Homo sapiens: one gene and its partners. The protein of the gene in region 2 interacts with the protein of the main gene of each other region in a pairwise test. Each region holds a gene or a part of one and is shown on either strand. Other genes may lie near its edges. The genes, in order: PFDN1, SPTBN4 and NEK2.

What was found.
Region 1: the proteins of SPTBN4 (region 2) and PFDN1 interact in a two-hybrid assay, tested with the Homo sapiens proteins (one large-scale study listed by BioGRID and IntAct).
Region 3: the proteins of SPTBN4 (region 2) and NEK2 interact in a two-hybrid assay, tested with the Homo sapiens proteins (one large-scale study listed by BioGRID and IntAct).

What each region holds. Positions count from the first base shown.
Region 1 is NC_000005.10:140,279,022-140,282,675, forward strand, and holds part of PFDN1 (prefoldin subunit 1), read right to left. Parts: intron 2,513-3,654; coding exon 2,428-2,512; intron 1-2,427. UniProt on the Homo sapiens protein: Binds specifically to cytosolic chaperonin (c-CPN) and transfers target proteins to it. Binds to nascent polypeptide chain and promotes folding in an environment in which there are many competing pathways for nonnative proteins.
Region 2 is NC_000019.10:40,469,921-40,473,574, reverse strand, and holds part of SPTBN4 (spectrin beta chain, non-erythrocytic 4), read right to left. Parts: intron 969-3,654; 5' UTR 954-968; coding exon 785-953; intron 1-784.
Region 3 is NC_000001.11:211,665,611-211,669,264, forward strand, and holds part of NEK2 (serine/threonine-protein kinase Nek2), read right to left. Parts: coding exon 3,503-3,654; intron 1,622-3,502; coding exon 1,496-1,621; coding exon of another isoform or gene 1,452-1,495; exon of another isoform or gene 807-1,451; intron 1-806. UniProt on the Homo sapiens protein: Protein kinase which is involved in the control of centrosome separation and bipolar spindle formation in mitotic cells and chromatin condensation in meiotic cells.

The DNA of each region.
Region 1 (3,654 bases), on a different chromosome or scaffold from region 2:
AAAAAAGAAATTGTATATAAACTGGAGTTATATTACTAAAGTAGCAAGATAAACTGTCAAATGATGGAAAACAGTATATATAGCATAATTCCTATTTTAAAAAAAGGTTGTGTATATATATGCATGTATGAATGTCTTGATATAAATATAGAAGTTTGGAATGATACAGAAACCGTAGAGGTGACATTTGGATGTACCGAGGGTGGAAAAACAAAGTAATATTTTCATTGTTTAATCATTTGTTTTATATTTTATTTATGGTGTACTTCTATTGCTTTTATAATGTAAGTAACATGTAAAATGAAAAATTAAAAAAGAAAAAAGAACTTCCTAAAAGATAAAACATTCTACCAGTATTTGAGACACTCAACAAAAGGAAACTTGCAGAAAGTAAATTTCTTAATATTCACCAGAACTCAGCAGTACGGTATTGATAAAATCATCACCTGTGGCAATTTCACCTTGATAATTGGGGTTTTTGTGTTTTTTTTTTTCCCTAAAGAGACAAGGTCTTGTTATGTTGCGCAGGCTGGAATGCCTCAGGCAATCCTCCCGCTTCAGCCTCCCGTAGCTGGGACTACAAGCATTTGCCACTGTGCCCACTCTGCTAATTTTTTAATCATGAAAGTTAACAACAAAAAAAGTTAATGTATACTTGTTATAATTTATTATTACAGAGATTGTAAGAAAAAAATCAAGGCCAGGCGCAGTGGCCTATGATTCCCAGCACTTGGGAGGCCGAGGCAGGCAGATCATCTGAGGTCGGGAGTTCGAGACCAGCCTGACCAACAAGGAGAAATCCCATCTCTACTAAAAACACAAAATTAGCAGGGCGTGGTGGCGCATGCCTGTAATCCCAGCTACTTGGGAAGCTGAGACAGGAGAATCGCTTGAAGCCAGGAGGCGGAGGTAGCAGTGAGCCGAGATCACACCATTGCACTTCAGCCTGGGCAACAAGAGCGAAACTCCGTCTCAAAAAAAAAAAAAAAAAACAAAAAAAGAAAAGAAAAGAAAAGAAAGAAAGAAAAAGAAAAAATCATTTATCCCTACGTCCCATCTAATTTCTTTAGGGTAAACAGTATTAACAATTTAATATATATCCTTACATATCATCTTCAATATTCATACACAAATGTTTGTTTTTTGTTTTCATAAAGAGAATTATATACATATTACCTTGCTACTTATTATTCATTAGGATAATTTTAAATATATTTACCTACAGTTGCAAAAATGCATTTTGTTTTATCTACATGAAATGATTCTGTTTGGGTTTTTAAAGATACTTTTGTTTCTTATGAGTGAAAACACAGATATCAAACTGAACCTCTTAGAACAGTTGAGCTGATTAAAATGTTAAAATAGGACACAACAACAATCTGGTTATCACAGGCTGTTTTTTCTTTACTTGGTTTTTTTGCTTTTTTGTCTTGTTTTTACAATACACTTTTCTAAGCTGCAAATCTATTATCAAGTTTGTTTCAACTATCAGTAGTTAAAAATAAGCCTAAGTAACCTAAGATACTGCATACTCCCAGGCCAGGCCAATTCAGTGCCCCTAAGAAATCCTCAGGAGGCTACAAGTTGTAGCTCCCAAATTCAGCAGAGGGCTGAGTTAGATTCTGATCCTCTGCCTCAAATAGTACTTACAGAAATTAGATGAAATGACCTATGAAGTCAATGTATCCACCCACATGTTGGGAAATCTTGGTCCCTAAGAAATAACCAGCTTTTTGTCCAGTCTAACTTTTACTATACACAGGATGGGCCTTTCACCAAAGCCCAAGAAGAATATCTCACTAAAGGTCTTAATGTATAAATAAATTATAATAATAAAAATAATAAAGTAATATTTCCAAAGATTTGCTTACTGTTACCTATCATCTTTTTCCCTAGCTAAAAAGAAAAAATTGTTCTCATTGGAGCACCATCCTTCAGATAGTTAATTGGTTATAGCTTGCTACTTTGTCCTTATATAGAACCTAATTTAGGTTAAAGAAATTACAATGTGTAAAAAAGACCCTATACCAAGATCCTCTAAAATTTATCATTATTACCCACTCTCCTGCCCATCCACCACAATCCACTACACAAGTGTTGTTTAAATATACATTACATTTTGTTTATGGTTTTGTTTTTTTTAAAGAATAAACACATTCAAGGGCAATGAACAAAATACATTCAGGTTAAAACCATCTCATCAAAATTCTCTGCAGTTCCAAAGAAGAGACTATTCTTTTTTTTTTGTTTTGGTCTTATATGCGCTATGAATATGAATATGACAGCTTCACGGCTCCAACGTAATTATAGAAAATAAAAATAATATGACATTACTTTGGCAGGCAGGCATACATTTTCATTTAATATGACACAATAAGATTACTACTTTCTCCCAAAAGTTAACTCCTATTGCCAATAAAAACTTACTTCTAGTTCTTTAATTTTTTCTTCTGCTATTTTCTGCTTCTCTAACAGCTGACTGTGAATTGCTTCCTTGGACTGAAGAATAAACCTATGAAACACAAGAAAGTTGAAAATTAAGCCACATGACTATTGAATTCATCGAAATCAATAGCTACATACTACAAATATTAAACTGAGCAAATTAAAAGGACAAATGCATATTAACATAATACGTCAAGCTCAGGAAACCACCAGAAGTTTAAACCTTCTTGGCTGAGAAGGAATAAAGGCTTAAAAGTAGATTCTGCTTTCTTATTTAATATAGGAATCAGGCAGGGAACAGTGGTGTGGGCCTACAGTCCCAGATACTCAGGAGGCTGAGGTGGGAGGATTGTTTGAGCCCAGGTGTCTGAGTCTAGTCTGGGCAACATAGCAAGACCCTGTCTCATTAAAAAAAAAAGCGGGGGGGTTGCGGGAGTTGGGCACAGTGGCTCACACCTGTAATCCCAGCACTCTGAGAGGCCGAGGCAGGAGGACTGCTTGAGCCTGGGAGTTCAAGACTAGCCCAGGCAACATGATGAGACCCATCTCTACAAAAAATAAATTTAAAATATTAGTCAGGCACAGTGGCACACGCCTGTAGTCCCAGCTACTAGGGAGGCTGAGGTGGGAGGATCAATTGAGACTGAGATATCAAAGCTGTAGTGAGCCATGATTGTGCTACTGCACTCCAGCTTGGGTAACAGAGCAAGATCCTGTCTTAAAAACATTAAAAAAAAAAAAAAAAAGAAAAGAAAATCAGGCTTCAAGTAGATTCATATGTAAAAGAAAAAATAATAAAGGAATAAAAATATATCATACGCTAAGAGAAAAGTCAACATACAAACAAATACCCTATAAGTTTTGTTTTTTCAGTTATCTGTTTCAATTTTTATCTAGATATTTTTTAAACTATATTTGTAAAGTGGAGCGCCCCTCCATTTTTTTTTTTTTTTTGTAACAGCAGTAACTCATGACCTTTTAAAGTCACAATCAAGCACTGTGTTAGGATCAATGCATTAGTGTTTATATGAGTTCCTCAAACAAAAAGCACTGTATAAGCCTTAGTATCTTTTATTATTATTTCCAGAGTGTATATAGTACCTCTGAAAAGCTCAAAATGTACAAGTGGAAATTTTCAACTTTTTCCATTTTACATCAGGCACATTATTTACCACTGATGAGGGTGGAAATATGGAGAAGTTTTAAAAA
Region 2 (3,654 bases):
GACCAGCCTGACCAACATGGAGAAACCCCGTCTCTAGTAAAAATACAAAATTAGCTGGGCGTGGTGGCACATGCCTGTAATCCCAGCTACTAGGGAGGCTGAGGCAGGAGAATCGCTTGAACCTGGGAGGTGGAGGTTGCGGTGAGCCGAGATCGCGCCACTGCACTCCAGCCTGGGCAACAAGAGCGAAACTCCGTCTCAAAAAAAAAAAAAAAAAAAACACCAGGCCAGGTGCAGTGGCTCATGCCTGTAATCCCAGCACTTTGGGAAGCCAAAGCAAGTGGATCACTTAAGATCAGAAGTTCAAAACCAGCCTGGCAAACACAGTGAAACCCGGTGTCTACTAAAAATACAAAAAGAATTAGCCGGGTGTGGTGGCGGGCACCTGTAGTCCCAGCTAGTCAGGGGGCTGAGGTAGGAGGATGGCTTGAGCCGGTGAGGTGGAGATTGCAGTGACCCAAGATCTCACCACTACACCCCAGCCGGGGCAACAGAATAAGACTCTGTCTCAAAAAATATATATATAAATAAATTTAATTAAAACTAAATAAAATTTAAAACTCAAAGGCTGTCACATAGCACTGGCCACATTTCTAGCATTCAAAAGTCACAGAGACTAGTGATTATTATATGGTACATTATGGATATAGACTATTTCCACCATCATGGAAAGTTCTATTGGACAGTGCTGGTCTCTTTTCCCACCCTCCCAGCCACCAAGGTTCTCGGGCACCCTTCCCCCTTCCCCCTCCTCCTCATCCCACCCCAGCCCTCCTCCAGGTACCTGCCAAGGCCTTGATCCGGGAGCACTCAAAGAGCGAGGCCGCTGCGGTGGACGCAGCCGGCTGCTCCCGCTCCCAGCCCCGATCCGGACTCTCCCAGCGGGCAGCAGGGTTGTTGTTAGGAGCAGGCAGGCCCTCCATGTTGTCCACTTCCCCTGGTACCTGCGCCATCGGGGAAGGTGAGGCCTGGACATAGGGAGAGGTAGGTTAGGTCTAGGATCAAGTCTCATTTCTAACAGTGACTGGCTTTGAGTCCTGTCCCCTCTCTTGTCCTCAATTTCTCTGTCTTTAAAGTGGACATAATAACAATGATAAGGCCTAGGCACAGTGGCTCATGCCTGTAATCCCAGCACTTTGGGAGGCAGAGGCAGGAGAATCGCTTGAGCCCAGGGGTTGGAGACCAGCCTGGGCAACATAGCAAGATTTCATCTCTATAAAAATAAAAATAAGCCAGGCGCAGTGGCTCAGGCCTATAATCCCAACACTTTGAGAGGCTGAGGAGGGCGGATTGCTTGAGCCCAGGAGTTCGAGACAAGCCTGGGCAACATGGTGAAACCCTGTCTCTACAAAAAAATACAAAAATTGGCCAGGCACGGTGGCTCACACCTATAATCCCAGCACTTTGGGAGGCAGAGGCGGGCGGATCACCTGAGGTTGGGAGTTCGAGATCAGCCTGACCAACATGGAGAACGCTGTCTCTAATAAAAATACAAAATTCTCCAGGCGAGGTGGAGTATGCCTGTAATCCCAGCTACTCGGGAGGCTGAGGCAGGAGAAGCGCTTGAACCCGGGAGGCGGAGGTTGTGGTGAGCCAAGATCATGCCATTGCACTCCAGCCTGGGCAACAAAAGCGAAACTCTGTCTCAAAAAAAAAAAAAAAAAAAAAATAGCTGGATGTGGTGGCAACGTGCCTGTAATCCCAGCTACTCAGGAGGCTGAGGTGTGAGGATGGCTTGAGCCTGTGAAGTGGAGGTTGCAGTGAGCCAAGATAGCGCCACTGCACTCCAGCCTGGGCAGCAGAGCCAGAAACTGTCTTTTAAAAAAATTTAAAAATTAGCCAAATGTGGTGGTTGCCACCCGTAGTCCCAGCTATTTAGGAGGCTGAGGCAGGAAGATGGCTTGAGCCCAAGAAGCCAAGGCTACAGTGATCTATAATAGTGACACTGCACTCCAAACTGGGCAATATGGCGATACCCTATTTCTAAATAATAATAATAATAATGTTCACCCTCACCACTTCACAGGATGTGATAAAACACATGGCTTAGCCCCTGGCACATATTAAGGGCTCAGCAAATTGTCACTGTTATTATTAGAACAATAGAGTTCTGTAATGCAGTAATAACAATAATGAACATATTGAACACTTGCACTGTGGTCAGTACTTCATGTACCTTCTCTTATTATTTCCACAAATTTAATTCCCTAACAGTTGGCTATTATTACACCTATTTTACAGAGGAGGAAACTGAGGCACAGAGGAGTTGATCTATTTTTCCAAGGTTACACAGCCAGTTAGTATCTAGGATTCAAACATAGATGATAGGGCCAGGCGCGGTGGCTCATGCATGTAATCCCAGCACTTTTTGGGGCTGAGATGGGTAGATCACCTGAGGTCAGGAGTTCAAGACCGGCCTGGCCAACATGGTGAAACCCTGTCTCTAAAAATACAAAAATTAGCTGGGCGTGGTGTCACACACTTGTAATCCCAGGTATTCAGGAGGCTGAGGCAGGAGAATCACTTGAACCTGGGAGGTGGAGGCTGCAGTGAGCCGAGATCATGCCAATGCACTCCAGCCTGGGAGACAGAGCAAGACTCCGTCTCAAAAAAAAAAAAGGTGATAGAATATTTGCATTAATGGGGCTGGGCACAGTGGGTCCTGCCTGTAATCCCAGCACTTTGGGAGGCCGAGGCAGGCGGATCACGAGGTGAGGAGTTCGAGACCAGCCTGGCCAACATGGTGAAACCCGGTCTCTACTGAAAATACAAAAATTAGCTGGGTGTGGTTTCGGGCTACTGTAATCTCAGCTACTCAGGAGGCTGAGGGAGGAGAATCGTTTGAACCCAGGAGGCGCAGGTTGCAATGAGCTGAGATTGTGCCACTGCACTCTATCCTGGGCGACAGAGTAAGACTCATTCTCAAGAAAAAAAGAAGAAGAAGAAGAAGAAAAATTTAAAGTGGAGGGGGCAGGCACAGTGGCTCATACCTGTAATCCCAGCACTTTGGGAGGCCAAGGCAGGCAGATCGCTTGAGGTCAGGAGTTCAAGACCAGCCCGGCCAACATGGTGAAACCCCATCTCTACTAAAAATACAAAAATGAGCTGGGCATGGTAGTGCATGCCTGCAATCCCAGCTACTCAGGAGGCTGAGGCAGGAGAATCGCTTGAACCTGGGAAGGCAGAGGTTGCAGTGAGCCAAGATGGCACCACTGCACTCCGGCTTGGGCAACAGGGCGAGACACCATCTCAAACAAAAATAAAAAAATAAAAATAGGCCGGGCACGGTGGCTCATGCCTGTTATCCTGGCACTTAGGGAGGCCAAGGCGGGTGGATTGCCTGAGCTCAGGGGTTCGAGACCAGTCTGGGCAACTTGGTGAAACTCCATCTCTACTAAAATACAAGAAATTAGCCAGGCATGGCATTGTGCACCTATAATCCCAGCTACTCAGGAGACTGAGACAGTAGAATCGCTTGAACCTGGGAGACAGAGGTTGCAGTGAGCTGAGATCGTGCCACTGCACTCCAGCCTGGGCGACAGAGTGAGACCCCATCTCAGAAAAAATAAAATTAAATTAAATGAAAATAAAAAAATAGAAAACAAAAAATTATTTAAAAAAAGAAGAAATTGGCCGGGCACAGTGGCTCACACC
Region 3 (3,654 bases), on a different chromosome or scaffold from region 2:
TCTTTATGGATGACAGTGTGGAATCTATGAAAAGCCAGAATAAATATTTTTATAATATTGAAATGGTAGACTGCAATATTGGGAAAAAAGAAGGTATTTTAACAGAGATGAAGCCAAAGTTTCATATAATCCTTGTTTCATTTACTTCTATCAGTAGTTTCATTTCTTTCCATCACTTATTCACTACAAAGTTATTGTGATCATCAATCTAACTTAAGTAGGGTTTTTTGTCTGTTCCATTTACAAAATGCTGCCAATGCTCACTAAATTGATCACACTACATCTCAATTTATTAAAGATGGGAATAATAGCTTTCATATATGCTGTCCTACATGGAATAAGGGAGTTATAAAAACTCTAAATTTTATTGAAAATTCAGATGCTCGATTTTTGAAACCAACAACTTTTAACAGTTAGTTTGTGTCATAAATCAAGCAAAAAGATGTTTCACAGTTTGCATTTTACATAATCTTAAAGAGTCGATTAAATTAGATTGAGGGTTTCTATAAAATGGAGAATGTTAGACAATGGTTCACTGGTATATACGATAACCACATCTCAGTGCGGCAGAGTGAAGGGACAATGCCACACAAAGGCAGGGCCCTGAGAAAGCTGAATATCTATATACCAGACTTTAAATAAAGAAGGAAATGCAGAGAACATATGTAGATATTAAACAATCAAATTTCAACAAATATGTCTTTCAACTTGAAAGGGTGTTAGCAAAGATCCAAACGTGACAGCCTATTCTGCAGGTGGCTTATCATGCCTTTTAAGCCATGCTTTCTATGAAAAATGAGGCATGGCAATATTAAAATGTTTATTTTTACTTGAAATGCAGTTTATCTCTCTGAAATCTGAAACATACAATAGTTTTGTAAATGCCCTAATTTTTAAAAATAAGTATCGGCTGGGCACGGTGTCTCATGCCTGTAATCCCAGCACATTGGGAGGCCGAGGCAGGCGGATCACGAGGTCAGGAAATCGAGACCATCCTGGCTAACACGGTGAAACCCCGTCTCTACTAAAAATACAAAAATTAGCCGGGCTTGGTGGCGGGTGTCTGTAGTCCCAGCTACTTGGGAGGCTGAGGCAGAAGAATGGCGTGAACCCGGGAGGCAGAGCTTGCAGTGAGCCGAGATTGTGCCACTGCACTCCAGCCTGGGCTACAGAGTGAGACTCCATCTCAAAAAAAATAAAAAAATAAATAATGATAATAAAAATAAGTATCAATTACTAAACATGTAGTTTGATAAGGTAAAGAAAATCAAACATGAAATTCTATGACTCATTGCCTCAGGTCTATGAACCCAGGAAATAAATCATTGCTATAACAGAATTTTGTTTCCATTGAAATGCATATATTCAATGAAATCCATCTTAAAATTTGAGATTTGTAAATGAAAAGGGCTACCTAAGCCACTTTGGGAGCAACACTGGTGCACATTTCTTCATTTGTAGCACCAGCTTCTGTTGACCAAGTTGATTCTCATACCTGGATTACTTGCCAGAGACAGGAACTTCCGTTCCTTTAGCAAGCTGTAGTTCTTCAACAGATTTTCTGCTCTAGCCAGTTTGTCCTCTGCTAGTCTCTCACGAACACAAAGCTCCTGTTCTTTCTCTTTAAAAAGAGAATGGACAAAGAAAAAAAAATTAACAACTGACCTTGACTAAAAAACAATTTACATTTGGCAATCTTATCACTACTAGCATGCCTGATACTGATAAGCAATGTTTGGGGAAAGGATTCTCACTATGCCTCAGTCAACCTGATTATGTTAGTTTTTAATTGAGTGTTTTAGTAGGCTGTATGTTATCTTAGATTTTCTTGAAAGGACTTGTTTAAACAAATACAAAGTTAGCTTCAACCTTTGGTCATCTTTTGTGGGAGTAACTCATTTGGGAAAACAAAAAACTAAAGCTATCTCTGCTCTTCACTGAAGATAAGCAACAGCTAATTTTCAGGGCATGATCTGGCCTCACAGTACAAAAATCTCCTTCTTCTGGTTGAATGACCACACCCAAACAAAAGAAAAAAAACACAATTCAGTTAGGTGGTAGTTCATAGGATTAGTATTAATAACAAATGTTACTATTTATTCATGGCCCCAAATTCAGAAAGTATTCAGATTTCAGTTGCTATATGAAATTATGGCTGGTCACAGTGGCTCACGCCTGTAATCCCAACACTTTGGGAGGCCGAGGCAGGTGGATCACCTGATGTCAGGAGTTCAAGACCAGCCAGGTCAACATGGCAAAACCCCATCTCTACTAAAAAATCAAAAATTAGCCAGGCATGGTGGCAGGCGCCTGTAATCCCAGCTACTCAGGAGGCTGAGGCAGGAGAATTGCTTGAACCCGGGAGGTAGAGGTTGCAATGAACCAAGATGGTGCCACTGCACTTCAGCCTGGGCAACAAGAGTGAAATTCCATCTCAAAAAAAAAAAAGAAAAGAAATTATGAAACACTGGGGAAAGTTATAAGAAAAAGCTTTCTTATTTTTTACAGAGGTTTCCAAGTAAGTATAGGTTGTACCTATACAGTAAGCATATCTCACAGGACTATACAATATTTCATTATTTAAAGCCTGGATTGGGCATAAAGCTGCAGAAGTAAAATCAGGTGAGTCATGAGGGTGACAGGTCACAAATACGACCCCATCTCTCGTCTCCTGATGTTAAAATGAAGAACCTCACTCTGTAGCTACCTTGCATAACCCTAAATGCTTGCGAGTAGCTCTCATCTTGGTGGAGTAGACACACTTTCAATATCAAAACTAAATTAGCATCTAATCAGTTAATACTCATAAGTCAATGTTAATACCCACCAGAGTATTATTTATAGACTTAAAATATCTTGTATCTAGATTCTCTATTGAACTGCCTGAACAGACCAGGTGTGGTAGGTCACACCTATAATCCCAGCACTTTGGGAGGTAAGATGGGAGGATCACTTGAGCTCAGGAGTTCAAGACCAGCCTGGGTAATATAGTGAGACCCCATCTCATTTTCAAAAATAAAAAGTTAAAAAAAAAGAAAAGAATTGCCTGAACATATCTCATCTACATACTGTAGGGTTTTAGACCTGGAATTCTGTTGGAGTGGCCATTTCAAAAGACAAAAGTCATGGTTTTTTATTATGGAAAGCAGCAATTTTAAGACCTTCCTTTACAGTGGGAAAACATTAGGGTATTCACAGTAGAGACGAAAAAGAAAAAAGTAACTCTAGAGTAAAATACAAGGCTATCGTATTAGGGCCATCACAGTTAAGGCCCAATAATATATAACTAGCAACTGATCTCAGAGAAAGATGTCCAACATGAAGGTGCCAGCAAGCCTGATTATTAAAAAGTCTAAAATACATATTTTGGTTTCTCAAGTATTTTTCAAAAGCTTCTAATAAGATCTGTATGTATAAAATATTCTGCTCAAAGAGATATTCAGACACATCAAAATAACCCACTTGGTAGTTCTCCTTTGCTTTGACCCCCATTCAGACTTACGCTCCAATCTTTCTTCTCTTGCTTTGAGAGCTCGCTCTCGCTCCTGTAACTGAATTTCCTTCAGTTTCAGCTCACTCAATACAGGGCTGGAATCCTGCGATTTTTCTGGCTCTCCTAATTGTCGCCCTCTTCTCTCAAGATTTCTTCTTTGC